2 separate regions of the Homo sapiens genome follow, and region 1 is linked to region 2. The links come from fine-mapping of genetic effects on gene expression. A gene starts in region 2. The other region holds a variant in brackets. All regions are shown on one strand. Distances are between the middles of the regions. Region 1 overlaps TPX2 (TPX2 microtubule nucleation factor). Region 2 holds the start of FOXS1 (forkhead box S1).

What was found. PIP is the estimated chance that this variant, and not a neighbour inherited with it, causes the effect.
Region 1: its variant is the best candidate, but not a certain one, in a credible set for the expression of FOXS1 in esophagus muscle (GTEx, PIP 0.83).

The regions. Positions count from the first base shown.
Region 1 is chr20:31,751,708-31,767,194 of GRCh38, forward strand. TPX2 (TPX2 microtubule nucleation factor) reads left to right here. Exons shown (of 18, transcript NM_012112.5): 3 at 5,700-5,875; 4 at 8,350-8,472; 5 at 14,849-14,975. The coding sequence starts at 5,770. Among named protein-coding and RNA genes, the nearest start is that of TPX2, 20 kb to the left of the region's middle. The variant A/G (reference allele first, on the strand shown) is at 8,322.
Region 2 is chr20:31,836,140-31,851,626 of GRCh38, forward strand. It overlaps FOXS1 (forkhead box S1), which reads right to left and starts at 9,465. Exons shown (of 1, transcript NM_004118.4): 1 at 8,164-9,465. The coding sequence starts at 9,403. The coding sequence ends at 8,411. It also overlaps a transcript of DUSP15 not described here. RefSeq lists enhancers at 903-1,750, 8,849-9,406.

The sequences.
Region 1 (15,487 bases), 84 kb before region 2:
GTGACAGAAAATGTGGCTATAATGGTTTATACAATAATTATTATTATTTTCTGAGATGAAGTCTCACTCTTGTCACCCAGGCTGGAGTGCAATGGCGCAATCTCAGCTCACTGCAACCTTCGCCTCCTGGGTTCAAGTGATTCTCCTGCCTCAGCCTCCCGAGTAGCTGGGATTACAGGCACCTGCCACCACACCTGGCTAATTTTTATATTTTTATTAGAGACAGGGTTTCACCATGTTGGTGAGGCTGGTCTCGAACTCCTGACCTCAGGTGATCCGCCTGCCTTGGCCTTCCAAAGTGTTGGGATTACAGGTGTGAGCTACCGTGCCTGGCCTATTTTTTTTTAGTATAAGAAGTCTTTTTAGCAGGTCATGGAAAATTGTAAAAAACACCAGAAGTCTAGAGGTATATAGTAGCTGATATTTGATCTTTAATAGTCATTAGCTCATTGATGTTAAGCCCTATGTTTATTGTTCTCTTGGCCATCTACTCATGTATACCAGATGACTGCCATAGCTCCAGCTTGCCTTCAAGGCAAGAAGAAGGATAAAGGGAAAGGGCAGGAATAAGGGCTATAGCTGTTTTCAGGAAAGAAAATTTTTTCCTAGGAATCCCTCAGCAGATTCTTACTTAGTTCTCATTGGCCAGAACTGTCCCATGGCTACCCCAAGCTTGGAAAGTGGCTATCAGGAGGTAACTTCCATTTTAATGTACTTGCTACTGTTTTGGTCATGGTCAATGAAAAATATTTAATCGTACCTTGACTTCAGCCATGTTAATTTCTAATTCTCTATACTTAGAGTTCATACTGTATAATTTAAACAAACTGTCTTATTTATTGTGTATGATAGGACCTTAGCGTCTATGTAGATGTTAAGTTCCTTTGTGTTCAGGACTACATCTACTTTTTTTTCTTTTTTTTTGAGACGGAGTCTCGCACTGTTGCCCAGGCTGGATGCGGTGGCGTGATCTCGGCTCACTGCAAGCTCTGCCTCCCGGGTTCACACCATTCTCCTGCCTTAGCCTCCTGAGTAGCTAGGACTATAGGTGACCGCCACCATGCCTGGCTAATTCTTTTTGTATTTTTAGTAGAGACGGGGTTTCACCATGTTAGCCAGGATGGTCTCAATCTCCTCACCCTGTGATCCACCTGTCTCGGCCTCCCAAAGTGCTGAGGTTACAGGTGCGAGCCACTGAGCCTGGCCGCTTAGATCTACTTTTTGTGTGAAGATATAGAGTGTCATCCTTGAATGTTACTGAGAAACATTCAAGGGCACACAGCTTATGGCCCCTAGCAAGTACACACTATTGTGAACCACTGACAAAAAGCTTATTGAGTTAAGCTTAATAATGAAAGTAGAAATGGAGGAGAGAGGAAAATTTAGACTGGGGATACCAAAGAACCCCTATTCCAGACAGAAGACTATGGAGAATGGATTTACTTGGAAATAAATACAGTATTCTTTTCTATGCAAATAGCTTAACTTCATGAACACCCTTCTTTAATTCACAAGGTAAGAGGGCAGAAGGATGTAGAAAGAACATTGTGCTGAAGTCACGAGCCTCAGGTCCAGATCTGGCTCTGTTTTTACGTAACTGTGTGATACTGGGCAAGTCATTTAATCTTTCTGATCTTCAGCTTCTAGGTTGGGAATAATTGCTGCTTTACAGGATTGTTTTGCATATCAGAAAGAATACATATTTAGTATATCATGGCACCTGGCATGTAATGAACACCTCTGGTAACTGTTTTTACCATGATCCTTAGGATTTTTGTTGTGTGATCTTGGAGAACCCCTTTTTGCTTTAAGTTAATATCTTATAGACTGCAAAGGTTAGGTGTTAATCAAAGTTTCCTCCCAATTCTAAAATATCATGTTTCTACACTAAGTACCTCAATTAGAGCATTGTTATAAAGATACTTGTGGAATTCTGGCTGCAGTGAGCATAGGAGAGACCATGGGAAGATGATGTTCTCTGGGGTCTAGATTGATGTCACTGTATAAATGAAATATTTGTTATAACAGATGTTTCTGGCCGGGTGCGGTTGCTCATGCCTGTAATCCCAGCACTTTGGGTGGCCGAGGCAGGCAGATCACCTGAGGTCAGGAGTTCAAGACCAGCCTGGCCAACATGGTGAAACCCCATCTCTACTAAAAATAGAAAAATTAGCCAGGCGTGGTGGCGCACGCTTGTAACCCCAGCTACTTGGGAGGCTGAGGGAAGAGAATCGCTTGAACCCAGGAGGTGGAGGTTGCAGTGAACCAAGATCATGCCACTGCACTCCAGCCTGGGCGACAGAGCAAGACACCATCTCAAACAAAACAAAACAAAAACAACAACAATAACAGATGTTTCTGAGACACTATAAGGACCAGAAGTACATTATTTTTATTTATTTTATTTTTTGAGACAGAGTCTCGCTCTGTCTCCCAGGCTGGAGTGCAGTGGTGCGGTCTTGGCTCACTGCAGCCTCCCGGGTTGAAGTGATTCTCACCGAGTAGCTGGAACTACAGGTGCAGCCACCACCCCAGGCTAATTTTTGTATTTTCAGTAGAGATGGAGTTTCACCATGTTGGCCAGGCTGTTCTCGAATTCCTGACCTCAAGTGATCCTCCCGCCGCGTCCTCCCAAAGTGCTGGGATTACAGGCATGAGCCACCACTCTCAGCCCCTAGTCCATTTTGAATTGCCCTAGTCCACTGAGAGAAGCTGTGAAATGCTGGCCAAACCACTGAACGGCTATGTAGGTTGGGAGTAACTAATCTCATGATTCATCTCAGTGGATAGCTTATGTGGTATAGTTTAGAGAAAATGAGTGCTGCAGTGCCCAGAGTTGGGGAGAGTTTGGGGAACTGGCACACTCCTGGTAATGTAAGTGGGTGTTTTTTTCTTCTGAGGGACATTTTCACAGTATGTGTCAAGAGCTTTTGACCCAGCAGTTCCACCTCTTAAGATTTATCTTAAGGGAAGAATTATGGATGTGTACAGAAATTTAGCTACAAGGATGATGCTTTAGCAGTATCTTTAAAGTGAAAATATTGGAAAAAGGCTGAAAATCAAGGATAAGTAATTATGGAACAGATACAGCCATTAATTGATATGTCTATATTTATTGACATACAAGAATATTCATAATATGTGAAGCAGATTCAAACTGTCAATGATTCATTTAAAAAAATAATAGTTTGTATATATATGAGGGAGAAGACATCTGGAATAGTGTAGCATTATAGGTTTATTTATTTATTTATTTTTGAGCCGGAGTCTCGCTCTTGTCACCCAGGCTGGAGTAGAGTGGCGTGATCTTGGCTCACTGCAACCTCCGCTGCCTGCGTTCAAGGGATTCTTATGCCTCAGCCTCCTGAGTAGCTGGGATTACAGGTGCCCACCACTGCGCCTGGCTAATTTTTTGTATTTTTAGTAGAGACAGGGTTTCACCATTTTAGCCATGATGGTTTTGATCTCCTGACCTCGTGATCCACCCGCCTTGGCCTCCCAAAGTGCTGGGATTACAGGCGTGAGCCACCGTGCCCGGCCGCTTTTTTGTATTTTTAGTAGAGATGGGGTTTCACCATGTTGGCCAGGCTGGTCTCAAACTCCTGACCTCAGGTGATCCATCCGCCCTGGCCTCTCAAAGTGCTGGGATTACAGGCATGAGCCACTGCGCCACACTAGAAAGGTATTAATTTAAATAAACATTTATTCAAGTGATTACTGGCATCTACCTCCCTTCTAAGATACAGATACTTTTAAGTACATGTCGTTCCCTGGATAAAAACAAATGGCTGGCCGGGCGCGGTGGCTCACACTTGGGAGGCCGAGGTGGGTGGATCACTTGAGGTCAGGAGTTTGAGACCAGCCTGGCCAACATGGTGAAATCCCGTCTCTACTGAAAACAAAAAATTAGCAAGGTGTGGCTGTGGGCGCCTGTAATTCCAGCTACTAGAGACTGAGGCAGGAGAATTGCTTGAACCCGGAAGGCAGAGGTTGTGGTGAGCTGGGATCATGCCACTGCACTCCAGCCTGGGGGACAGAGTGAGACTCCGTCTCAAAAAAAAAAAAAAGACAAATGGCTCATTGGGTTTCATTGGCAAATTATTGGCCACTGAGTGTGGCCTTTAGGCTATTTATCAGATTACTTTCAGCTATTTTATTAACTAGATTAGGCTTGAGTAGGAGCTGACTTTAAACCTTCACAGGTTTCCACAAGATAGAGTGCAAAACTTCGTACGCAGGAGTAGGGAGGGGCCTATTTAACTTGTTCCCTTATCCTTGCTTCTGTTCCTATGCTGCATGTTGTGACTCTTACGTGTATTTCAAAGTTGTCGTCTTTATACTCAGAAATAGTATTTTTTGAGAATATTTCTAAGAAAAGACAACTTATATTTGACAAAACTGTGTTGAACTCTTACTATGTATAATGCACTGTGTTAAGCACCTTGATGGTTGGATGGATGGATGGATGGATGAGGTATACACAAGTGAGTAAAATCTATCTTTGTTTTTAGGAACTTCGAGTCTACTGGGAGAGACATTTACATAGTTAATATAAAATTGGATGATAAGTGTTACAGTGGAGATATAAACAAAGCACAATTGGCTTTGGAGAGGCAACAATTTTGTATGATAGGTGGAAATTGGGAAAGAGTTCATAGAGATTTGACCTGGACTTTGAATGATGGATAAGATTTTGGTTGGTAGGCATAAAAATTAGTGGTGTATTTTAGAAATTGGGTTATTCAGGGCAGAGAGAGAATAAATTGGGCTAGAGGAGGCTAGAAATGAGAAAATGGTAAATTGAGGGAAAATAATGACATGGTGAATGTAAAACACCTAGCACAGTGTAGATACTTATCAAACTTTGCCTCTTTTAAAAAACATTTAGAAAATTTATTTATTTATTTTATTTTTATTTATTATTATTTTTTTTGAGACAGAGTTTTGCTCTTCTTGCCCAGGCTGGAATGCAATGGCGCGATCTCGACTCACTGCAACTTTCACCTCCCAGGTTCAAGCGATTCTCCTGCCTCACCCTCCCGAGTAGCTAGAATTACAGGCGCCTGCCACCATGCCCAGCTAATTTTTTGTATTTTTTAAGTACAGAAGAGGTTTTGCCATGTTGGTCGGGCTGATCTTGAACTCCTGACCTCAGGTGATCCACCCGCCTCAGCCTCTCGAAGTGCTGGGATTACAGGCGTGAGCCACTGCTCCTGGCCTAAAATTTATTTTTAATTTCAATTTTTTCTTTTTGGTTTTTCTTTATATTTGCTGATTACTTAAAGATAATTTTTATTTTTTTAGAGATAGGGTCAACTACTTACAGATAATTTTTATCTTTTTAGAGACAGGGTCAACTGTTATACTTAGAGATAATTTTAATTTATTTAGAGACAGGGTCTGTCTATGTTTTGTAGGCTGGACTTGGACTCCTGGTCTCATGTGGTCCTCCCTCCTCCCAAAATGCTGGGATTACAGACGTGAGCCACTGTGTCTGGCCCACTTCTTTCTAATTCCAAACATATCTACCTCAAGGAGTATCTTTAAGTTACCTGAAAAACTAATGTTTAGGTTGATTGGACAAAGTAAGGCTATTTTCAGTAAATTCTAGGTGGTTTGCAAAATTACAAACGTGGTAGTAAAACCAAAGTAATGATGGGAATTTACTTAGATTTATGTGCAACCATTTCTTTCCTCAGAAGGTGACCTGCTGAGAAAAGTGGTACAAATACTGGGAAAAACCTGCTCTTCTGCGTTAAGTGGGAGACAATGTCACAAGTTAAAAGCTCTTATTCCTATGATGCCCCCTCGGATTTCATCAATTTTTCATCCTTGGATGATGAAGGAGATACTCAAAACATAGATTCATGGTTTGGTAAGTGCCTGCTTTCTCTGGCTATTTTAAGGATTAGTGGCTTGCTTTGTGCTGAAGACCTTTCAATAATAGAAGGGGTTGCAAGAAAAGAACTAAAATATCAACTTCTTTCTGCACCAAGACATTCTGTCATCCATGATATTATGGGAATAATTGAAATGCCCAGTATTTGGGGAATGGATTGTAAGTACAAAGCATATGTTGTTTTGTAGTTCAGAATGGCAGATTTAAGCTTTAGGGACCTATGGGAAAGTTCAGATGAACCAGTGTTCAACAAAACTCCATGCTCAAATATGTCTGTAGTGATGGCAGCCACATAAAAACTTTGTCTACTATCATTAGGGATAGATTATATCACAGCTAGGATATTGACATTCATACAATCTACCAGTTTTACTCAGATTTCTCCAGTTTTACTTGTATGTGTATTAAGTTCTCTGTGGTTTTATCACCTGTGTTGGTTTATGTGTCTACCATCACAGTCAAGATCTTTTATAATTACCCTCACCTCCCTCCTGCCACCCCTCCCTCAATTCATTTTTTTTTTTTTTTTTTTTGAGGCTGTAGTCTCGCTCTGTTGCCCAGGCTGGAGTGCAGTGGTACAATCTCAGCTCACTGTAACCTCCGCCACTCTTGTTCAAGCGGTTCTGCCTCAGCCGCCCAAGTAGCTGGGATTACAGGCGCCCACCAGCATGCCTAACTAATTTTTGTATTTTTAGTAGAGACAGTGTTTTGCCATGTTGGCCAGGCTAGTCTTGAACCCCTGACCTCAGGTGATCCACCCACCTCAGCCTCCCAAAGTGCTGGGATTACAGGCGTGAGCCACTGCGCCTGGCCCTCAATTCATTTTTAAATGGAAGGATTATGCTACTAAGAACCCATTCCCAGAAACAGTATTGCTTGGCCAATGGTAAGTAAGAATGTGGTTACATTTTTACATTACTTTGAAATAATATCTGAGACTAGTTGTTGAGGCCCCTTTGATTCTTTCTCTCATGTCTCCATCCTCCTTATCGGGAGAAATCACTATGAATATGTGGTGGGGAACAGAAGTGAGTCCATTGCAGCTGTACTTATCCGTATAGTGCACTGTCCAAATGTGTTGACAGGTGCCATTTTTTGGAAAAGGACTTTAATGGCATCTAGTGGGGATCCTGAGAGGAGTCGTCTGTTGGAAGTGGTGTGGGAGGAAGGGTAAATAAATACAAGGGCCAGCTGTCCTGCGGGGATCTTCCCCATGCCCTTGCTTCACTGGAACTGTAAGGAAATGGCTGGGCTGTCTGAGGATTTCTTTTTCTAAGCTTTTCTTTAAAATAAAAAAGAAAAGAAAAGATTAGCCTAAGAATACTGTTAAATACAATTTGGAAGAAAAAAAATGACCCCACTATTTTTCCAAAACTACCTTAGTTTTAAAACATTTTTATTTTTTTTTCTTTTTGTTTTTGCCAGAGTTCTTTTGGCTAACAAAACTACCTCAGTTTTAATATATTACTTTCCAATTTCTTTCCCAAATAAATAGTCACATCTTTCTACACAGTTGCAATCAGAATGTACATGCACAGGGTAGTTATTGCTGTGTCTCACTGCATTCCTGAAACTATCAGTAGGCTGTTGGTAGAACAGACCCTTCACTGCTTTGTACTGACTTCTGGGCACAGTAGAATCTAAGATAAAATTTCTTGAGAGAACCTAGCTCTGCTCTACCCTCACACACCCCTTATTCCTCCCACCACCCCACTGAGGAGGAAACTCTGTAAGACTATACAGTATCTCTTGTAAGCCCTACAGTTTTTGATGGTTACAGTTTTCTTTCGTTTTTTTTTTTTTTTTTTTTTTGAGATGGAGTCTTGCTCTGTCGCCAGGCTGTAGTGCAGTGGTGCGGTCTCAGCTTACTGCAAATTCCACCTTCCAGGTTCAAGCGATTCCCCTGCCTCAGCTTCTCAAGTAGCTGGGATTAAAGGCATGTGCCACCACGCCTGGCTAATTTTTTGTATTTTAGTAGAGACGGGGTTTCACCATGTTGGCCAAGACAGTCTCGATCTCCTGACCTCATGACCCACCCGCCTCGGCCTCCCAAAGTGCTGGGATTACAGGTGTGAGCCATCGCTCCCGGCTGGTTACAGTTTTCTTTAAGAGGAACATGATATATTTAGGGAGTAGATAAAGCCAGTTCATATTTGTATGACCCTAAATGTGTACCAAACAAAGATAAGGAGTTATTCACAATGCAGAATCTGTACTTTTCCTTTTTTATAATACATTGTTCAATGTTGCCAGTTTTTAGTGATTGTTCTTATAGTCTATCTCGGATGTGTAATGTGTACTTTTTCTTTTGATTGCTAGAACTTTGCTTGTACTTGCCACATGAGTTGGAAGTGTACTGGTAGGGAGCTTTAGTTTGCATTTTAAATGCGTGATAGTGATTTGTTTTGCTTCCTTGCTGATC[A/G]GACAATGATGATCTTCCCTTTTCACAGAGGAGAAGGCCAATTTGGAGAATAAGTTACTGGGGAAGAATGGAACTGGAGGGCTTTTTCAGGGCAAAACTCCTTTGAGAAAGGCTAATCTTCAGCAAGCTATTGTCACACCTTTGAAACCAGGTAAGAAAACATCTTAGAAAAAAGCTCCTTGATAGAATGGTGGGACAGTGTTTTAGAAGCCTGAGGTTCTGGGAAAATTACCTAAATGCTCTATCTCTTTGTTTATTATTGGTGAAATGGGCTAATTCATTTCATGATAAATGTAAAACTAATGATGTGCTACACTTAAAAAAAAATCTCTTGGAGCTTAAGCTAACATAGAATTTTTTTTTTTTTTTCTTTAAGATGGGGTCTGGTTCTGTCACCCAGGCTGGTGGAGTACAGTGGCACAGTCATAGCTCACTGCAGCCTCAAACTCCTGAGCTCTTAGTAACTGGGACTACAGGTGCTCAACACCATGCCTGACTGATTTTTAAAAAATTTTAGTAGAGGAGTCTTTGCTAGCCAAGCTGGTCTTGACCTCCGGGCTTCAAGTGATCTTCCTGCCTCAGGGGCTTCCCAAAGTGCTGGGATTATAGGTGTGAGCTACTGTTCCCGGGGGCTAACATAGAATTTTATTGCCAGATACGTAACTGTTATCTTTTTGTGACAAGATTTAATGTAACCTAACCTGGGTCTGGGTGGGAAATAAAACAGCAAGAAAGAAGACTGTACTGCTTGCCATTGTACAAGAATTCTTTGAGTTATGTATCTGATTTTAAAAGATGATGGATCGCTTCTCGGCCTTTTGGCTAAGATCAAGTGTAAAAGATGATTGACATTTAAACTGGTGGGTACTGGATCTGCAGAATATTGTCTGTTTGGTTAGAACATAAGAAGCATTCTTTAAGAGGTCATAAAATCCTTCTTGAAATTGATTCTTTTGAAAAAAACAGCTGTATTTAGATTTAACTCACACATCATATGATTCACTTAAGATAAACATTTCAGTGTTTTTAAGTATATTCACAGAGTTGTGCAACCATCATCCTATCAGTTTAGAACATTTGAAAAGTATTATGTGGGTAAATCTGAAACTGGTCTCCATCACACCATATGACTACTCTCACCTCCCTCCTGTCACCCCTCCTTCAATTAATTTTTTTTTTTTTTTTTTTTTGAGACTGGCGTCTCACCCTGTTGTCCAGGCAGGAGTGCAGTGGTATAGTCTCGGCTCACTGTAACCTCCACCACCTGGGTTCAAGTGATTCTCCTGCCTCAGCTGCCCAAGTAGCTGGGATTACAGGCGCCCACCAGCATGCCCGGCTAATTTTTGTATTTTTAGTAGAGACAGGGTTTCACCATATTGGCCAGGCTGGTCTCAAACTCCTGACCTTGTGATCCGCCCACCTCGGCCTCCCAAAGTGCTGGGATTACAGGCGTGAGCCACTGCACCCGGTCAATATTTATCTTTCTATGCCTGACTTACTTCACTTAACATAATGTCCTTCAGGTTCATCCATGTTGCCATGAATGACAGAATTTCATTCTTTTTTATGGCTAAATAGTATTCCATTGTATATATATATGCCACATTTTATCTGTTCATCTGTTGATGGATACTTCAGTTGATTCCATATCTTGACTATTGTGAATAGTGCTGTAATAAACATAGGAGTGCACATAGATATCTCTTCGATGTACTGATTTCCTTCTTTTTGGATATATACCCAGTAGGGGGATTGCTGGATCATATGGTAATTATATTTTTAATTTTTTGAGGAGCCTCCATACTGTTTTCCATAATAGCTGTACTAATTGACTTTACTACTAACAATATATAAGAGTTCTCCTTTCTCTGCATCCTCAGGGATGCAGAGAAATTTTTAATATTTTTCATAGTGTCCATTCTAACTGGGATGAAAGGATATCTCATTGTGATTTTTAATTTGCATTTCCCTGATGATTAGTGATGTTGAGCATTTTTTCACATACCTGTTTGCCATTTGTATGTGTTCTTTTGAGAGATGTCTGTTCAGCTCATTTGTCCGGCTGTTGAGTTATTTGAGTTCCTTGTGTATTCTGGATATTAGTCCCTTCTTGAATGAATAGTTAGCACGTATTTTCTCCCATTCTTTAGTTGTCTCTTCACTCTGTTGATTGTTTCCTCTGCTGTGCAGAAAGTTTTAAATTTAATATAATCCCATTTGTCTACTTTTGCTTTTGTTGCCTATACTTTTGAGGTCATGTTCATAGGATCTTTGCCCAGAACCGTGTCCTAAAGTATTTCACCTATGTTTTTATTTTATTACTTTATTTATTTATTTTTGAGACAGAGTCTCACTCTGTTGCCCAGGCTGGAGTGCAGTAGTACGATCTCGGCTCACTGCAACCTCCGCCTCCCGGGTTCAAGTGATCCTCCTGCCCCAACCTCCCAAGTAGTTGTGACTACAGGCGCGCACCACCACACCCAGCTAATTTTTGTATTTTTAGTAGAGATGGGGTTTCGTGATGTCGGTCAGGCTGGTCTTGAACTCCTGACTTCAAGTGATCCTCCCACCTCGGCCTCCCAAAGTGCTGGGATTAGAGTCATGAACCACCGCCCTCGGCCTCCCCTATGTTTTTAGTTGTTTCATAGTTTAAGGTCTTACATATTAGTCTTTAATCCATTTTGAGTTGATTTTTGTATATGGTAAGAAATAGATGTCTAGTTTCATTTTTCTGCATTTAAATATCTAGTTTGATCAGCACCATTTTTTGATTTTTCAAATTTAAATTTTATTTTAGAGATGAGGTCTTACTCTATTGCCTAGGCTTGTCTCAGAATTCCTGGGCTTAAACAATCCTACCACTTCAGCCTCCCAAAGCTAGCACCATTTATTGAAAAGACTGTCCCTCCACCAAGGAATGTTCTTGGTGCTGTTGTCAAAAATCAGTTGGCTATAAATACGTGGATTTTTTCCTGGGTTCTCTATCCTATTCCATTTGTCTGTGTGTCTGTTTTTATGCCAGTACCATGCTGTTATGGTTACTATAGCTTTGTAATGTATTTTGAAGGCTGGTAATTTGATGCCTTCAGCTTTGTTCTCTTTGCATAGGATTGGTTTGGCTATATGGGGTCTTTTGTGGTTCCATGTGAATTTTAGGTTTTTTTTCTTGAGACAGAGTCTCACTCTTGTTGCCCAGGCTGGAGTGCAGTGGTGCGATCTTGGCTTACTGCAACCTCCGCCCCCCGGGTTCAAGTGATTCTCCTGCCTCAGCCTCTGGAGTAGCTGGGATTACAGGCATCTGCCACCACCCCTAGATAATTTTTGTATTTTTAATAGAGATGGAGTTTCACCATTTTGGCCAGGCTGGTCTCGAACTCCTGACCTCAGGTGATCTACCTGCCTCGGCCTCTGAAAGTGCTGGGATTACAGGCGTGAGCTACTGCGCCTGTCCTGCTTATACATTATTTATGGCTGTTGTATTCTTACTAATTTTTCTTTCCATTTGTTCCATCAATTAGAGAGAGAGGTAGTGAAATCTCAGACTGTAATTATGGATTTGTCTCTTTATCTTTATAATTTTTGCTTCATATAGTTTGAAGCTACTATTAGATGCATAAATGTTTAGGATTGTTATGTCACGTTGATGAATTGGCCACTTTAATTTAATTTAAATTTAATTTAATTTAAATTTAATTTTTTTTTTTTTTTTGGCTGGACGTGATACCTCATGCCTGTAATCCCAGCACTTTGGGAGGCTGAGGTGGGCGGATCACAAGGTCAGGAGTTCGAGACCAGCCTGGCCAATATGGTGAAACCCTGTCTCTACTGAAAAATACAAAAATTAGCCGGGTGTGGTGGTGCGCACCTGTAGTCCCAGCTACTCGGGAGGCTGAGGTAGGAGAATCGCTGAAACCTGGGAGGCGGAGGCTGCAGTGAGCCAAGATCATGCCACTGTACTCCAGCCTGGGCGATAGAGCAAGACTCCATCTCAAAAACAAAAAATTATATACATATATATACACACACACATACACACATATATATACACACAAGCATATATATATGTACATACATCTAATATACATGTATGTGTGTATATATGTACATATACATGTATGTGTACATACATGTACACATACATGTATATGTATATATTTTTGAGACAGGGTCTCACTCTGTCACCCAGGCTGGACTGCAGTGGAGCAATCACGCCTCACTGCAGCCTCTACCTCCTGGGCACAGGTGATCCTCTTACCTCAGCCTCTTGAGTAGCTGGGACCACAGATGCCACTACCATGCCTAGCTAGTTTTTGTATTTTTTGTAGAGACAGAATTTTGCCATGTTGCCTAGGCTGGTTTTGAACTCCTGGGCTCAAGTGCTCCACCCACCTCAGCCTTCCAAAGTTCTGGGATTACAGGTTGAGCCACTGTGCCTGGCCCCACTTTAACAGTTTGAAATGATCTTCTTTATCCCCATTGAAATTCTGTGCTCTGAAACCTACTTTGCCTGATATTAATATAGCCACTCTAGTTTTCTTTTGATTGGTTTTAGCATGGTATGTCTATATTTAAAGTGCATTTTTTTGTAGACAGCATATAATTGGGTCTTGCTTTATTATTTAATATTATTGTTGCTGCATTTTAATTGGAATAAATGCATCTATTTTAGCCTTGACATGCTATGCTATTATTTTGTGTGTGCGTGTGAGTCTCTCTGCCCCAAAAATATTTCTTTAGGAGATGAACCAAATGATTGTTCTCTGAAATGAATAATGCCTAAACTATGTTTTCATGGCCTATCTTTTCTTCCCTGTCATCTTGTTGCAGTTTAATTCCTTTATCAGGAGTCAGTTCATATGCTATGTGATTAAGTGCTGTTTCTTCCATGAAGCCTTTACTTGTTTCTTATTCTGTTTTGTTTTTTTGTTTTTGTTTTTTTTTTTGCAGACAGGGTCTCAGTGTGTCACCCCATCTATAGAGCAGTGGCATGATCACAGCTCCCTGCAGCCTTGACCTCCTGGGCTCAAGTGATCCTCTTGCCTCAGCCTCCTGAGTAACTGGGACTACAGGCACATTCCACCATGTCTGGCTAACTTTCTCAGTGTTCCCATAACACTTTTTTTCTATTTCGTTAAAAATGTTTATCAAGGCTGGGCTTGTAGTTCATGCCTGTAATCCCAGTACTTTGGGAGGCCAAAATGAGAGGATTGATTGAGGCCAGGAGTTTGAGACCAGCCTGGGCAATATACTGAGACCCCCATCTCTATTTATATAATATTGAAAAGCAAAAAAAAAAAAAAAAAACGTTTATCAAAATAAAACATGGCCATGGTAACATGGCTAACAATACTTAGAGTTTATGTTAAAATAACCCCTTTCTCTTCCCATCCCTACCCCCTGTCCTTTTTCTCAAACTCATATTGGTTTTGTTGTTGTTGTTGTTGTTTGTTTTTATATTTTGTTTTACAGGTGGGATCTCACTGTGTTGCCCAAGCTGGTCTCAAAATCCTGGGCTCAAGTGATCTTCCTGCCTCCGTCTTCCCAGTAGCTGTTTTAACTCACTATTTTAACTTGTGCTGTGGTTACATTCATAATGCCTGATAGTATGATTATATCAGCAGTATTTACAATGTTATGATTATATAAATATTGTTCAATGCCAGATCAATAACTGTGATGCAGTTGCATCCCTTCTTGGTACTCTTTGGCTATCTTTGGTTGTATTGTCACAACCCCTGAGCCACATAAAGATGATTCTGACATCAGGAGATCAGTGGATTTGCTTTTCTTTAAACTTTATCAATTTCTTAAATTTCTGCCACACTTTATCTTGCTTCATATTGGACAATGATCCTTGGAAGTTATTACTACTTTTTTGGGAGAGCATTATTATTTTTACTATCTTTGCTGCCTTGTTTCCTGGACCTTATAACTTTCTTCTGGATATACTCCTTCATTATGTGGGAGTGCATCCTCAGGAAACTTTCTTAAATTAGTGCAGGAGAGAAAAACTTTGAGTTCTCACATATTTGAAAATGGCATTGTTTCACTTTTATATACAATTGAAAGTTTATCTTAATACAGCATTATAGATTGCAAATTATTTTTTATCACTACTCTAAAGACATTGTTCCTTTATCTTCTATTTTTATGTATTGCTGATGAAAAATTCAGTGCTTATCTAATTTTCCTTACTTTGTAAGTGATTTTTTTTCTTCTTTATGGAAGCTTTCAGAATTTTATCTTTACCAGTGTCCTGAAATGTCATGAGATTGTGTTTGGGATGCTTTTTTTAAAGGTAGTACCTTAGGCTGGCAAATAGGCAAGCCCTGGATACATCATTTCTGTTTCAACCAAAGTAGCTTTTATAAACTGGTCTTCTGTATAAGATTTAACTGGAACTAAGGTTTCTGTGGCTTAGACAGGGTGTGTGTGTGTGTGTGTGTGTGTGTGTGTGTGTGTGTGTGTCTCATCTCCAATTATTTTCCTTGGCCTTTGAGTGCTGACTAGCTTTTGGTCTTCCGCAGTTGACAACACTTACTACAAAGAGGCAGAAAAAGAAAATCTTGTGGAACAATCCATTCCGTCAAATGCTTGTTCTTCCCTGGAAGTTGAGGCAGCCATATCAAGAAAAACTCCAGCCCAGCCTCAGAGGTAAGACTTTGGAATCTCAAAGTGGTGGTTATGATAATAATGTTCAAAGGATAGTTACTGGACAGAACATCTATTATGTGTCTATACTGTGTTTATGGACACCTTTATGTTACTTTTTTTTTTTTTTTTTTTTTGAGACGGAGTGTTTCGCTCTTTTGCCCAGGCTGGAGTGAAGTGGCATGATCTTGGCTCACTGCAACCTCTGCCCCACCGTGTTCAAGCAATTCTCCTGCCTCAGCCTCCTGAGTAGCTGGGATTATAGGCACCTGCCACCACACCCGGCTAATTTTTGTATTTTTAGTAGAGATAGGGTTTTGCCATGTTGGCCAGGCTGGTCTCAAACTCCTGACCTCAGGTGACCCACCCGCCTCAGCCTCCCAAACTGCTAGGATTACAGGCGTGAGCTACTGCGCCCAGCTATGTTACCTTTAAAAATCCTCATAATATGGGTTTGTGTGGTTGGTATAAATTAAAAAAAATCTGTATAACATTTATGAGTTGTAGGTAATATG
Region 2 (15,487 bases):
TGACTCTGAAGTCTGAGCCTGACTCACAGTCTGGGGCTTGGGGGTCCTGGGGAACCTGGCTTGGGCTCTTGGCGGGAGGTGCGCTTATAGGCAGGGCCCCTAGGGCTGTGGATTCCTGCCTGCCTGCCCGTCCGCCACCTGCCAGCTGGGCCAGGCCTGTGGTTTCCTCTGAGTGGTTTTCTTGGCCTCGCTGGCCCCCACCCAGGCTGAGCCTCGGCCACACAGCATGTTGATGAGGGATGAGTCACCACCGTGGGGGGAGGGAAGGAAATGAAGTCCAGCCACAGCAGAGATCCAGGGCCTGGATCCAGCTGGGGAAACCGAGGCCAAGATGGGGAAGGTCCCTCATCAGAGACAGTAACAGCTGGAACTAGAACCCAGGACTCCTGACTCCCAGTGCATGCCTCAGTTTCCCCCTCTGTAATATGAAGTTGATAACCTCGGCTCTTTTCTCCTCTGCCACTCCTAGGGCCATTGTGACAGTTGAGAGACGGGATGGGGTGCTCATGCACCATATTTTACAGGTGAAAAAACAGGTTCAGAGAGGGAAAGTGACTTGGCCAAGGCTACACAGCAAATTAACATGTCCTGTGCAAGAAGCCCATTCAGAACCCAGCCCCACCCCTTCCCAGGAGCACACCTTAGAAAGCTCTTTATGGTTCATCAGGTGCTTCCTCTGGGCCTCCCCTTGTCCCCAGAGGCAGAGAGTATAGATTCAATAATGTGGAAGGGGGAATGTGGGTTCAGAGAGACCTTGTTCCCACTGAGGGCCACGGAGCACACTCAGGGCAAAGCTGCAGCCACTGCCCCTGTGGACAGCTGGGTCTGCCTCTCTGCAGGCTTAGGCCCCAGCCCCATTGCTTTCAAGAATGCTCCCATCCCTGGCAGCTACAAGAAAGAAAGATTTTTCACGCTAGGAGCTGCCCTGATGGAGGGCGGGAGACCATAGCTGGTTTGGGACTGCCAAGCTGGACCAGGACTGAGCAAGGGTTCCCAGGGCATCAGTTCTCTGGGTGTCAGGCTGAGCTTCCCTGTCCCTTGCATGGTTTGCTGTGCCCACCACAGGCACCAGGGCCATGGGCCCCTCCTGCTCAGTGTCCATCTCAACGCTGATGCTGTGTTCTTCCCCTGCAAGGCACCTCTGTGCCTGGGCTTCCCCTGAACGGGGTCCTGGGCCCTCTTTGTAAGCTAAGAAGGGTTAATTAACACTGTCAATGGGAGTGCTCCTCCCAGTTGGTCCCAGCCCAGAGAGCTTTCCTCCAAGACCATTTCCTGCCTCAAGGCCTTAGCCAGGCCCACAGTGACCACCCCCCACAGGTCTGGAAGCCACTAAGCCCACATCTGGTTTGGATTACATCAGGGCTGGTGACACTGCCTTTCCCTTTCTGGGTCCAGTGGCCTTGTATTCCACTGGCCACCTTGGACCCAATAAGACAGTGGTAGGTAAAGATTCAGCCAGTGATAGGGCTGCGCCGAGGGCATGGAGGAGCCAGGGCTGTCCTGAAGGATGTGCCCACCTGGACCATCTCCTACCTATGAAGCTGCCTACGCATCTGTTTCTTCCTTCATGTTAATGGGTAATATTTATTGGCCACCAGGCACTATACCAAGTGATTCCCATCAATTAACTTATTTTGTCCCCACCCTATGAGTAGGTATTTTCATTATCAACATTTCACAGATGAGGAAACTGAGGCACAAGGAGTGTATGGACAAGTCCATGGGCTCCCAGCTGATGAATAGGGGAATCAGGATGTGAGGCAGGCCATCTGACTTCCCACACAGCAACCACTTCACAACCATTTGTTGAGCCCAGCTCTGGGCCTGGCCCCCAGCGAGAGCCTGGGGATGAATGAGTCATGGCCCTTGCCCTTGGGGAGCTCACAGCCTCTGGAACCCCAGTGGGAGGATGGGGATCAGGGTGAAGCTGGAAGGAATCTCATGAAACCATGAGAACAGGAAGGAGACACTAACCCCTATTCTCTTCTCTTCAGTGGGAGTCACATCCAAGCTGAGGGCACACAAGGAGCAGGGCTTTTCCAGACAGAGAGTGAGGAGGGTGTTCCAGGCAGAGGGGACTGCTTGCTGTCCAGAGACTTGCAGCTGAGTATAAGCTCATCTTGGAGCAGGCCAGTAGGGCTTTTGCATGAGACGAAGCAGGAAATAGGTCTGGAGAAGTTAGCAGGAGCCCGAATGGCAGGCTGACATGGGACAATGGGGAGCTGTGGAAGGGAGGTCAGAGATCCATGCTTACAAAGGATCCCTGCAGCCAGGGAGGTCAGTGAATGGGAGAGAGAGGCTGGAGGCAGGGACACCCGGTGGAGGCTGAGCCATGTCTGCTTGAGAGGCTGTTAGCTGTGGGGAGGAGATGGGGGAGATGCCTCTAGACAGATAGGCTGATGACAGAGAGATTGGGTTCCAGGTCAGACAGAACAGGGTTCGTACCTACTTATTTGCCCTCCCTGAGCCTCAGTTTCCTGTCTGTAAAATGGGGTAAGAATCGTACCTGCTTCCCAGGATAATGAGAAAGTTACATGGGATTTGTAGGTGGAGCCTGGTACAGGCTACTGAGCTTATGTTTTTTTCACAACTATTTCTCCGGCCCTGGCTATGTTCCAGACACTGCCCTAGGTGCTGGAGACAAGCAATGAATAGACAAAAATTCCTGGCCTGGTGAAGCTTCATGCCAGTGGGGGAGACACACTGAATGGCAATAATGAATTTAGAATGTGTTAGTGGTGGGGGAAATGGGGAATGTGGTGGCCAGGCAGGGCTTTTCTGAGGATATTTGAACAGAAACTGGAGGATATGAGGGAGTGAAGCCTGTGGACATTCACGGAAGATAAGGCAGAGCCAGTGTACAGGCTGCTTGGAGTGAGTGAGGGGGAAGGAAGGAGGAGCTGGGGCCAGACCACAGTGGCCCTTGCCTATTAACGAAACAGGGAGCCTTGTTGGGGAGGTCTTTGAGAATTTTTTTTTTTTTTTGAGACATAGTCTTGCTCCATCGCCCAGGCTGGAGTGCAGTGGCGTAATCTCAGCTCACTGCAACTCTGCCTCCTGGGTTCAAGCGGTTCTCCTGCTTCAGCCTCCCGAGTAGCTGGGATTACAGGCGCCCGTCACCATGCCCAGCTAATTTTTTGTGTTTTTAGTAGAGACGGGGTTTCACTATGTTGGCCAGGCTGGTCTCGAACTCCTGACCTCAGGTAATCCACCAGCCTTGGCCTCCCAAAGTGCTGGGATTATAGGCGTGAGCCACCGTGCCCAGCCTTGAGATTTAATTCATGGCAAATGAATGAATGGTGACCATGACTCCATCCATCCACTCCTAAACCTTCATGGAGGGACTACTATGTGCTAGTCATCGAGTTAGGGAAGATGACAAAACGCATAAGGCAGACCCAACCCTTGGCCCCTGAAGTTTACATTCTAAGGCAGAGACACAATAAAACATGAGTACATGTGCACATGCGTGATTCTACATTGCAGCAGATGCTATGTCAGCAACATAAATGGGATGCAGAGGGAGAATAATCTGGGGGCATCCAATTAGATAAGGAAGTGCAGGAAGACTTCTCAGAGAAGGTGATGTGATGTAGGTGGTGGATGTAGAGAGGCAGCCAGTGGGGGCGAAGGGAACAGCTGCTGCAAAGGCCTAGAGATGGAAAAGAAACTCACGGGGAGGCAAGTGTCCTAAGGGAGTGGGAGGGTCAGCCCTCTCTTGTTTGTATGCTCAGGGCAACCTCAAAACTGGCCCTGAGGGCTGTGGTCAAGAGGAGGCAGCCCTGGCCTTTCCCGGGACACCAGGCTGGCTTCTGGCTGACAGTGGCCTGTTTTTAGCCATGGAACCGTTTCCTTCTGCCCCACCAGCTGCCTCCCTGAGTCACCACCTAGTACCAGAAGTGTGGGAACAAGAGATTAGGCACCTCTGGACCTGTGAAGATGTGGGTTTTGCCCTGTGTGAAGGGAGAGATGGAGAGGACTACGCTGAGGGCATGAGGTCCTCCAACGGAGTTGTTTTATTAATTCTAATTTCATTCCTGTTGACTGAATTGTACAGGTAGTGTGCAGGACAAGGCTTTCCACATACCAGTCCTGGGGACTGGAATCATTGCTCCCATTTTACAGATGAGGAAACTGAGACTCAGAGAGGTGAATCCACTTGCTCAAGGTCACACAGCAAGGAAGTGAAGATGCCAGGAACTGAGTCAAAAGCCTTGTCTGTGTAACAGTCCTTCCTCCCCCTAAATCCTGTCCTCCTGCCTCCACAGCAGCTAGACACTCTTCTGGGGCATAAATCAGGTTAAGGGAGACATGTCCAGTACCCAAATACCTATTTATTGTACTTAACAAACACTTATTTTATTTTATTTTTTTTTTTGAGACAGAGTCTCACTCTGTCACTCAGGCTGGAGTGCAGTGGCATGATCTCAACTCACAGCAACCTCTGCCTCCCAGGTTCAAGCGATCCTCCTGCCTCAGCCTCTCGAGTAGCTGAGACTACAGGCATGTGCCACCACACCCGGCTAATTTTTGTATTTTTTGTAGAGACAGGGTTTTACCCTATTGGCCAGGCTTGTGTTAAACTCATGACCTCAAGTGATCCTCCTGCCTTGGCCTCCCAAAGTGCTGGGATTACAGGTGTGAGCCGCCGCACCCGGCCAACAAATACTGATATTGTAGCTGCCATGTGCCAGACCCTGTTCTAAGCACTTTGCCAGTATTAACTCATGTAATCCTCACAATAACATCATGGGGGTAGGTACTGTTAGGGTCCACATTTTACAGATGGGGGGAACCCAGAAAGGGGAAGCAACTTGCCCAAGGTCACACAGTTAGGACGTGGCGCCTGGTCCATGGGTGGATGGAAGTCTGGGTGTGGAAGGGATGTTTTGGCTGAGGCCTGGATTCCTGGATTGCATACTCTCCCAGCAGGCGGCATGCCAGGCTGGCCGATACAACCTCCCGGCTTTTTCTCATCACTGTGGCAGCCTTGCAGGGCCCTGCCCTCCAAGGGAGAGGGTCTCCTTCCCCTCGGCCAAGGCACTGTTTGGGGTGTGGGCAGGAGTGCCTAACTCTGGGCCATGGAATGCCATAAACCAGGGAAGGAAGGGGGTGGGCAGGGAGCAGGCTGGAGATAAAGCATCGGGGAGGAGGGGCTGGCTAAGGCCAGCCCTGTGGGTGGGTGAGGGTGGCCTTCCCAGGGGCCAGGAGTCCTTTCCTCTCTTGGGAGAACAAAGGCCGAGGCCCAGCAGGTGAAGCTTCCTAATGGTCTTTCAGAGCTACCACACTTTTGTGGGAAGGGGCCGGCCACCTGGAAAGGCAGTGGGCTCCCAGTTCCTGGAACCCCATGTGATGTCGACCATTTTAATGTAGAGAGGATTCAGAAATCGGGCAGGAGATGCCCTTCCGGCTCTGATATTCCAGGAATCTGAGTTGCTATGATTAAAAACTCTGGAAGTTTCTGAAATATTCATTTCAGATTCTGATTCTGCCATTTTAGGATTTGATTCGTCTAACTCTGTAAGGGTCTCAATAACCTTTTTTGCTCTCACCTGCTAAAGAGGAGGAATGGGGACTGGGATTCCCTCCTAGAGATGGACACGCTCCCTATGAGGAGGTCCTTGGTCCAACGAGATGGCCCCATCCCTCCCCTCCAGAGCTACATTAAGGCATCAGAGGGGGTGCCATGGATGGGCTGAGAAGCGGCTCTGCTCCTGCCTTGCCATGTGACCCTGGGCATGTTACCTCTCTTCTCTGGCCTTGGTCTCTCCATCTGTGCCAAGGGGCTCTATCTGGGTCGACAGAGGCATTCACTGTCCCCGCAACCCCTGTCCAGATGAGGGTGGTCAGGTGGGAGCCGGAGGTGAATGTTGGTCATGGAAAGAATGTGAAGGCAGGAGGCCCCGTGGGTGGGGTCCCTGGGCTGGGCAGCTAGCCAAGGGTGCATGAGATCATGGTGTCTCCTTGCCCAGCACCTCCAGAGAAGGGACCTCCTCCAGGTCAGATCCGTTCCTGGGACTCAGACCGTGAGTCAGGCTGCCCTTCCCCACAACCACCGGGCAAAGGGAGTGAAACGCAGAGAGGTGGGCACTGGTCCAGGCTCATACAGTGAGTCCAAGGCATGTGCTGAGTCCAGGGTCCTGCTTGGGGGGTTGGGGCTGAGGGGGCCTGTCTTCTCTTCATGACTATGTCGGAGGCCAGAGGGAGATGTGCAGAGGGGGCTCTGAGCCTGCATGTGGGCAACCCTTTCGCACATTCCCCCAGGGCAAGGGATGAGCAGGAGACTCAGCCTCCTTCTCCACAAGTCCCCACCCTAGTGCAGAGCTAAACTTCCTTGATTCAGGGGGATGCTGGGGAGTACAGCGGCAGAGGCCTGGGCTCCCCCAGCCCAGCCGGCTTCCCATCCTCCTAGTAGCTCAGAACCCAGGCTGGGAAGGGACTGGGGTCACCAGGGCTCCACAGGAATGTGCAACGGGAACAGCGCCCAGCAGAGGCCTCCTTCCCTGACCCAACTGAGAAAGAACTCTCACCCCTTTGAATCTGTCTGTCTGCCTCTGCAGGGTCTGTCTTTCTGCATCTCTCTCTTTCTCTGTCATATACACACACGCAGCCTGAGACACACTGATCCACACAGGCACACGCCATGGTACAGACTCACACAAGAGCCTCCTTCCCCCTCCTCACCATGCCCTGCACACAGAGGGCCTTTCCTCTTCCCTCTGCCCCATGAAGCTGCCCATAGGAGGCTGCACAGACCCTTGCTCCTCCTCCCCATTGTTTGATGGGTTCCAGGCTGGGGTTCAGCAGGCATGGTGGGGAGGGGCCCCACAGCTGGCCAGGCGTTTTCCCAGCCCCTCTCACCCTGCAGGTCCTCCTCCACCCCAGCTCTGAGACTGTGGGAACCAGACAGTTCGGGCTGTCCAGCCGGGCTCGCTTCCTCCCAGGCCCCAGGGGACCTGTCGGGGGAGGAGGGAGCAGCAAAGGCTGGAGTCCTCGGGGCTGCCTGGGCAAGGGAGGGCCTCTGGAGGGGAGAGGGCTGCCTGCCCAAGAAGGGGTCTCCAGCCCCCTGAGTGTAACCTCGTGGGACATAAGACACTCTAGACCACATGCCAAAAACCAGAATGGGGGTGCCCCAGCATCCCTCCCTCCTCTCCCTATGCCCATGATCCAGATAGGAGGACTGAGGCTCTGGGGAGGAAGCCATTCGCCTCTGCTCCTCCAGTGCTGGGGTCTGTGAGGACAGCGATGTTTCAGATTCCTTCTCTGTTCCTCTAACGAGGACCAAGAATATCCCCATTTCTCCTGCTTCCTCGCGAAGGGATAGTCAGAGAAGGTCAAAGGTCAGGGCTCAGTCACTTCTGAATGGTACCTAGGACAGTCACAGCCCATGCTGCTGGCCCCAAGAAATGCCGTCTTAAAGAGTCACCAGAGGACCTCATGGAGCTGGGGGCTCAGGGAAGCTCCCACATTAATGTGGGAAGTCCAAACAGGGGGTAGGTGCTGCCTTTTGAACCCTAGGTGCCCTGTCTGCACAATGGGTAAAGGGTGCCTTTCTAGCCCTGGCCTTCCAGGATTGCAGCAAAGCCCTCCCACCTCTGGGGGCCACCACCAGCTCTGCCCTGACCCTCTTCTCCACCCTTATGTCCTCACTCAAGCTGCAGGTCAGAGGCTGGAGGGTAGAGCCACACAGATGTGGTTTTGATTTACCCTCTGCCACCCATTTGCCCTCTGGAGTTGGAGCTGGCGAGCCTGTTTCCACCACTGTAAACGGGGCCAACTTTCCAAATCACACAGGTGAGATGATACATACAAGCCCGGGACAGGATCAGTGTCACAAATTGTCAGGGTTATGATGACTGCACCTACGGGGGCTAAGTCCCAGCATCTGAGACTGGAGAATCAGTCCCTCAGGCCAGCCCAGTCTTGCCCCTGCCCAGTCTCTCCCTTGCCTGTATCCTCCTCTCCCTGCTCCCCATTCCCTACCTCCCCTTCCTCTCCCTTTCTAGGAAACTCCCTGAGAAAGTCCCCAGCAGGAGAAAACCTCATGTGAGATATTCCCACCAAGGGTCTCTGCCCCCGCTGCACAACCCCACAGCCACAGCCACCCCCACATACAAGCAGGCACCCTGGCCCTCAGCCCCCAGCCATCAGGCAAGCTGACCCTCATCATCACATGGCTTTATTGGCCCTGAGAGCCACAGAGTAAATCCCAAGAGGCCCTGCTTCCCCTCACCCCCAAGTTTGTCCGGAGGCCCCAGGGGCCTGGCTGAGCACCGCTTCAATCCTGGCTTTCTGTGTGGTTGTCCTTGGCTCACCAGGGCTGGGTCCTTCGAGAGTTCTTCAGGTCCTAGAGCCAGGCTCAGCCCGGAGGGTGAGGGACCTGCAGGGACTGCCCGAGGTGAGGCTGCCTTTACTCAAAGAAGAACATTCCTGGCGTCCGGTATAGGCAGGGGGTCAGCCCCAATGGGTAGCCGGAGCCTCCCTGGACAGGGAAGCCACCTGCAACCCAGGGTTCCTTGTGGTCAGTTGGCAGGGGCAGTGGGGCCCGGAGTGAGCCTGGAGGGGTGGGTGGTGCAGGGGAGGGGGCTGCTGAGGCCAAGAGGTGCTCAAGGCCTGGGTCAGCCCCCATGCAAAAATTCAGTGCCTGCAGCCGACACTGGTAGCTGCTCCCGATGCCTGATTCCGGGGACAAGACGGGCGTAGGGGCCTTATTAAAACTCTCAGCCTCTGAGAAGCCGGCAGGAAAGCCAAACGCTGGGCATGAGGAAGATGAGGTGGCCACGGGGAGCTCCCCTGGGCATGCAGGCTTGGGCGTGGAAATCTCTTTGGGCTCCATGGGTGGCCGAGGCCTGCCATCAGTGGTTGCTGGGCACATACTGGCTGGCATGGCCCCCACCAGACCCCCAAAGCTTAGGCCCTTGGGATCTGGCAGCTCTGGTGGGAATGAGCACTGCCTGCCGGTCGTGGCGTTGGGGACTCCTGGGTCCTGGCTGGTCGCCCTGAGGGGTCCACGGCGTGCCTTGGCGGGGCCCCGGGTGCCCTCAGCACCTGTCTGCCGGGTGAAGCGGCGGCGGCGGCGTAGGAAGCTGCCGTGCTCAAACATGTCGTGGCAGTCAGGGTCCAGCGTCCAGTAGCTGCCCTTGCCTGGCTTGCGGTCATCGCGGGGCACCTTGACAAAGCACTCGTTGAGTGACAGGTTGTGGCGGATGCTGTTCTGCCAGCCGGGCCGGTTGTGGCGGTAGAAGGCGAATCGGCCCATGATGTAGCGGTAGATGCCACTGAGGGTGGCCCGCTGCCCCGGTGAGCTCTGGATGGCCATAGCAATAAGGGCGATGTAGCTGTAGGGAGGCTTGGTTGGCTCAGTTGTGGGGGCGCCAGGCCCGGGCAGAGGCTGCTGCTGCATGCTGGCCGGGCTGCCAGGCTGCTGGGACCTGCTGGGTCAGGCTCAGCTTCCAGGGCTGGCGTCCGGAATAGCCTGCCCAGGCTGGTTAAAAGGTCCACTGGCCCAGCCTCCCAGCCTGGAAAGGCAAAAAGGGGTGGGTCTGCTGAGCCATCCTCCCCTCCTCCCTCGCCCCACTCCCACAAGGCCCAAAAGAGGCGGGCAGGAGAGGCCAGTAGTGGGAAGCCGAGCAGCTGCCAGGGATGAGGAGTTGGGAAGGAAGGGACTGAGACCCTCAGCCCACGTGTGCTGGGTGGTGGTGGCTGGGGAGGGACAGGATGTGAAACTGAGCGGGACAGAGACAAAAACAAAATGAGACAGAGGCAGAAACATATGAAACAGAGACAGGGAAAAAAGAGATAGAGACAGAGAGAGGTAGAGACATCACAAGAGGGAGAAAGAGGGAGAGACAAAGATAAGACAGAGGCAGACACAACGGACAGAGACACCCAGAGCCTCTCAGACACTCACAGAGAGACACACAGACATACACGTACAGACACACAGAGACACACAGACATACACGTACAGACACACAGAGACACACAGACACAGACACACACACAGACACACACACACAGACATAAGCACACACACACATATACACAGAGACAGACACACACAGACACATAGGCATACACACAGACACACACACAAGCACATACACAGACACACAGAGACATACACACACAGAAACACAGAGACACAGACACAGACACACACACACACACACACACACACACACGTAGTATACGGAGAAAGTGAGAATCACTGAGCAGGCAGAAACAAGGAAATCCACAAAGCCAGAGAGAAAGGAGATACTGAGAGACACAGGTGCAAACACAAGGAGTGAAAGGAATGAATAGAGAGAGAGAGAGAGAGAGAGAGAGAGAGAGAGGAGAGAGAGGCAGGGCCTGAGCCCAGTCCCCCTAGAGTGAGAGAAGCCCCAGGGGCTTCTCTAATCCCTACCTCTACTCCTGCTTTTCCCTCTTCTCCCAGGCCTGTGGTCTACTGCCTTCTCCTGCGGTGCAGAGGCCTTGGGGCCACACCACTCCTACCCCATCCTCCTAGCTCTGGGGTGTCTGCAGGGAGGGGCACCTAGGATGGTAAGGAGAGCCCATGAAATTCAGTTCTGCTGCATCCCTGTCGCCCCCTAGTGACTGGTGTGGGAAGGACAGCTATCTGGGGAGAGACATTCTCCCTCCCAAGAGGCACCTCAAGACCTTGGCTGAGCCTCAGTTTCCCCATCTCTAACATGGAGCTGGTGACTCCTCAGCTGTCCAGGCCATGGTGGGGAGGCAACAGGTTCCCCTTACACAGAATGCAGCACCCTCATCAAGAGCCTAGTATGGAGTAGGGATATGAACATGGCTGCGGATTGTCACTCTGAACTGAGGCTACCCCAGCTGCAGCCTGGGGTCGGGAGGTCCAGAGAGTCAGGCCCAGAACAGTCAGGCCTTCTGGAGGAGGGGACGGCATCCTCTCTGCTCTCCCACTCCCAAGTCACTGCTCACCCACTCTGTACCAGGCCAGCTCACCTCCCCAACCCTACACTTACTTCTTCAACCAACCCTGCTCTGGAGGGCTTCATTGCTTCTTTTGAATAGATGAGGGCTCTGAGGCTCAGAGAAGGTAAGTAAATTCCCTGATGTCCCACATCTAGTGAGTGACAAAGCTGGATATGAGCCTAGGATTCTGTAATTCCTAAATACTGCCTCTTCAGTGAGGGGCAGGGGTAGCGGAGAGTCGCTGGGTCCCCACTAGAAAACAGAATGTGAACTCCAAGAGAGTAAAGAGCATGCTGTTTTGCTGTACCCCCAGAGTCACACACTGGACACTGGAACAGAGGCCTGGAACAGAGTAGGTGTTCAAGAAATGTCTGCTAAATGACTAAACAAACAGCAATTGATTGATTTCTGTCCTTTATCGAATCACAGTTTTCCCCCCATGAAGGTGGCTTATTAATGTATCATTAAAAGAGACTTACAATATTGGCATCTGTAAGAGGATTCCTATAAATAAAATCAGAACTCAGAAAAGAATAAAAGGCCTGATATGTGGGGTGGAAAACAGCTACTTTATTCCCATGGCAGGGTAACCAACTTTCTGGTTGTAGTCCCCCTTTCCAGTTCTCAGATTGCCTACAACGTACAGCTTGCAAAGACCAGTGGGGCTTGGAGAAGGGCTGGTCTTCCACGTTGACCTCTGCCTTAGGGCTGCATTTGGAGGTCCGCCTCAGTTTCTTCAAAGACAGCATCCTACAGGTGCTGGTACTTCAGTGGTTAGCATCCAAAGCCCAGGGTTCGGCCAAGTTCCCTGTTTTGGGATCCTTCCCAGCCCCCAGAATAAAGAAGAGAGACTAGCTGCAGGGAGGAGGAAGGTTCTGTAAATTCTAGGCCCCTGAGAGGCTAGGCAGTTTTGTTATGGCTTGATCCCACACTAAACAACCCTGATGATCTAATTATTGGTAAAAACTTTAAGCAAACGTTTTAATGGACTCAACAGCAGGTTAAGGCTGGCTCTGAGGAAAGCGCTATTGACAAATTGGGCTGTCAGCAAGAGATGAAGTCTTGCTTCTGCTCCAGTTGCTGCCTTTCTGGGGCCTCAAGATCAAGTTCAGTTTCCTGCCGAAGCCCCATGCCCAGCTGGGGGGCGGTGTGGCCTACTCTCGAGTTCCGGGGCCCCGTGACAGAGGAGTGGAAGGCCGCGATCCACCTCTGCCGTCCGGCAGACCTGGGTGATGTGCCGGGGGAGGCCCCAAGTCTATGGGCTTAGTGTGGGCAGGGTTGGGTGGGAGTAGGGAGCCCCCCTGTTGGGGGCTGCCTTCAGCGGGTACAAGAAGAGGAAGCGGCTCGCTTAGGATGGAGGCAGCTGCATTGAAGGTGAGTGATGCCATCGGGGTTGCCAGGGGTTGAGGACCCATCTGGGCGCTCGGTTGAGGCACTTAGAGTGCAGGACGAGCTCCCAGGCCGAAGCTGCACCTGCACCTGCGGGGGCGGGTGGGGCGATGAGCAGACCCTCTCCATTTCCCGCCTCGGATGTTCCCATGGGAAGTCACAGCCCTAGTTACAGCCCCATCCCTACCCCCATTTTCCAGGTAGGGTCCTACAGACCCGAGGGTGCTAGAAGTGTCAGAGGCAGAGCTGGGACTGGAGGGAGTGTGGGAAGGGCTGTCTGGAGGGGACTGGAGGGCGTGCTTCTTGGCTGGAGTGGAAGGAGTGACTCACGTCCGCCATGATGAGCTGCTCCTTGGGGTGCTGTGTGGGGCCCGGGTCCTCCTCACCGAAGCACAGACAGATCTGGTACTTTGGGTCCGGTGACCATCCTGCAGGTGGGCACACAATTATACGACACTGAGACTATAGGGACTGGGCAAGAACTAGGCAACCCACTGGTGCCCATCTTGTGCTCATTTCCCATGCCCAAGTCCTGTAAGCCCACATCCCATTGTGTGCCTGTACCCTAGGCCCACTTCCACGTTCCTATGCCTGTCCCATGTCCCACATCTGTGCCCACTTCCAGGTCTTATGTCTCTTCCTTGGCCCCTATGCCCACCCCATGCCTTTATGCCCAACCCATGCCCACTGCCACTCACCTATACCTATCTCGTGCTTGGTGCACCTCACATCCACCTTATGCCCTAAGCCAACACATGTACCGAAGCCCTATTCTTATGCTGCACACCCAACGCCTCAAGCCTTCTCCATGCCAGCACCCCATATACGCCTGTATCCGTATATGTGCCCCCAGCCCTCCTGGTGCCTGTATTCTTTCCCATCCCTGGTGCTTTTGTGCCATATTCTTTGTGTCAATGTCCACTTCATGCCCAGCACCCTTAGGCCCATCCCCCTGGGCCTGCATTTAATGTGCCCACTCTCCTCTGTTCATGTTCCTTTGCCCACCGCGTCCTTATGCCCCCGTTCCCACGCCACTCTGTTCCACTCCTCCAGCCGTCCTACCGCCTGGAGGAAGCCGCGTGTGTTCAGCAGGTGGCAGGTGCGCCTGCGCTCCACCTTGTTGGGCTGCGCCAGTACAGGCCCTGGCACAGGCGCTTGGTGAACACGCCCTCCGGAGCCACCCAGAGCTGCACACCGCGCTCCAGGTGAGGCGGCAGGCCCTGCAACACGTGGGCGCTGGGCAATGGGTCGGGGAAGCGAACCTGCTGCAACGTGAGGTGGCGGCCCCAGCAGGCGCTCGGCGGCCGCCCGCGGACTCAGACGACAGCGCTGGGCTGTGCGCCCGGTGGCTTCGCGCACCAGCGCTGCGGAGAGAAGAGCCACACGTGCAGCCAGCAGGCTGTGGGGCGAGAGAGGGTGCACGGGCTGGACGTGGGCGGCGCTAGCTCCCCTCGCCTTCTTACCCTCCCCTTCAAACTCTGCCGGACCCAGAGGTCGTCCCAGCCTCTACCTCGGAAATTTTGGGTGCTCTCTCCCTATCAGTGATGATAAGAATTCTAGTAATAATAGTAGTAAACAATAGCTTCCAGTATAAACGAACTGATAGTCGAGCTCTGCGGTTAAAAGCTGGGGCCATCTGTACAGTGAGGGCATGACCCTCCCAGCAAATCTTCTGGGATTCTAGGAGCTTCCTCCCAGCAAAGATTTTGATGCAGGTAGAAATAACCATAACAGCGACAATAACAACAACCTAGCAGCGTCTCATGAGAAACCAGCAATCCTGCTCAGTGGTTAGGGTTGTGGGCTCTGCAGCCAGGCCCTCGGATTCTAGTCTATCACTGCCACTTAGGAGCTTTCCCAGGGTTACCAGCTGTGTGACCTCAGGCAAGGTTCTTAACCTCTGTGTCCTGGTTTGGGCATATGTAAAATGGGAATAATAGCAGCATCTGGGGGCTGTGGGGAGCTTGGAAGGGTGCCTGGCATAAACTAAGCCCTCAGGAAATGTTGACTGTTGTGGCTATTATTGGGAGCCTGGGCTGGGTGCTTTGGGTGGGAGAGAGAGGTGGGCTGGCCCCACCCCGCGGCCGTCCCCAGTTCAGCACACTGGTCGGAGGGGAGGGGATTTCGATTCCTTACCAGGTTGCTGAAGTCATCGGAGGGCATTGGGCACCAGAGGTTTTTGAGGTCCTATGTCTGGCACCCTGGTGAAGGAGAGGAAGCAGTCAGGCACCATCTCACCCTGACCCCAGACCCATAGATAAGGAGGAGGCCAGGGAGGAGGCAGGGCTGGGTGAGGAGACCCAGTCCTTACTGTGGTCAACCAAAGGGCCTGGAGGAGGATGGGTGGTAGTAAGGAACCCTGCTGGGCCAGCCTGTGGGGCCACTCCTTGTCCTCATCCTCTGTGGCAAATCCGGAGCCATCCTGAGCATTGGGAGAAGAGGCTGTGAGGGTGGGAGAGGAGGCCTGTGACTCCTCAGGAATTCCCAGACTGTTCCCACCAGTGCAGAGAGGTCTGGGCGGACTGAAGGCCAGCTGGGGTTGACAGTGTTTCTGAGTAAAAGGGCTGGCTGTCCAATGTATTAGAAGTCAATATTATGGCACTGGGCTTTTGAGAAAAGAACTTTGAAGTTTCAGAGCTCAAACTCCCCCGCCCCCATGGAGGTAAAGAGAAAGTTGATGAAGATGTTGTAGGTATTAGGGCCAGAGATGGGTCACTGTGATAGGGAGAGAAGTGCTGGGGGTAAATGCGGAGGTGAGGGAGCTGGAGATGAAAGGTATGCGGGACAGAGCCAGATGCTGATGCGGGGGTGGGGGTGATGAGCACAGAGCAATGAGCTGTCGACGATGGCGGAAAGGTGATGGGGTGGAGATAATAGGGGTGATACAGACAGAATGAGGGAGACAGAGCTGATGGGAACAGTGAGGGAGCCGGAGGTGATGGAGCTGGACCCGATGGGGTGCATGGGGGTGGAGTGATGGACCCAAGGAGGACAAAGGAATGAATGTGGAGAAGATGGGGTGGCTGCAGACAGGGCAATGAAACTGAAGATGGTGGAGGTGAAGGGAATGGCCTGGTGGTGCTGCAGATGGAGGGAGGGCTGCAGGAGAGGTAGAAAAAGGTGGAGCGGGTGGGAGCATGGGGACAGGGCT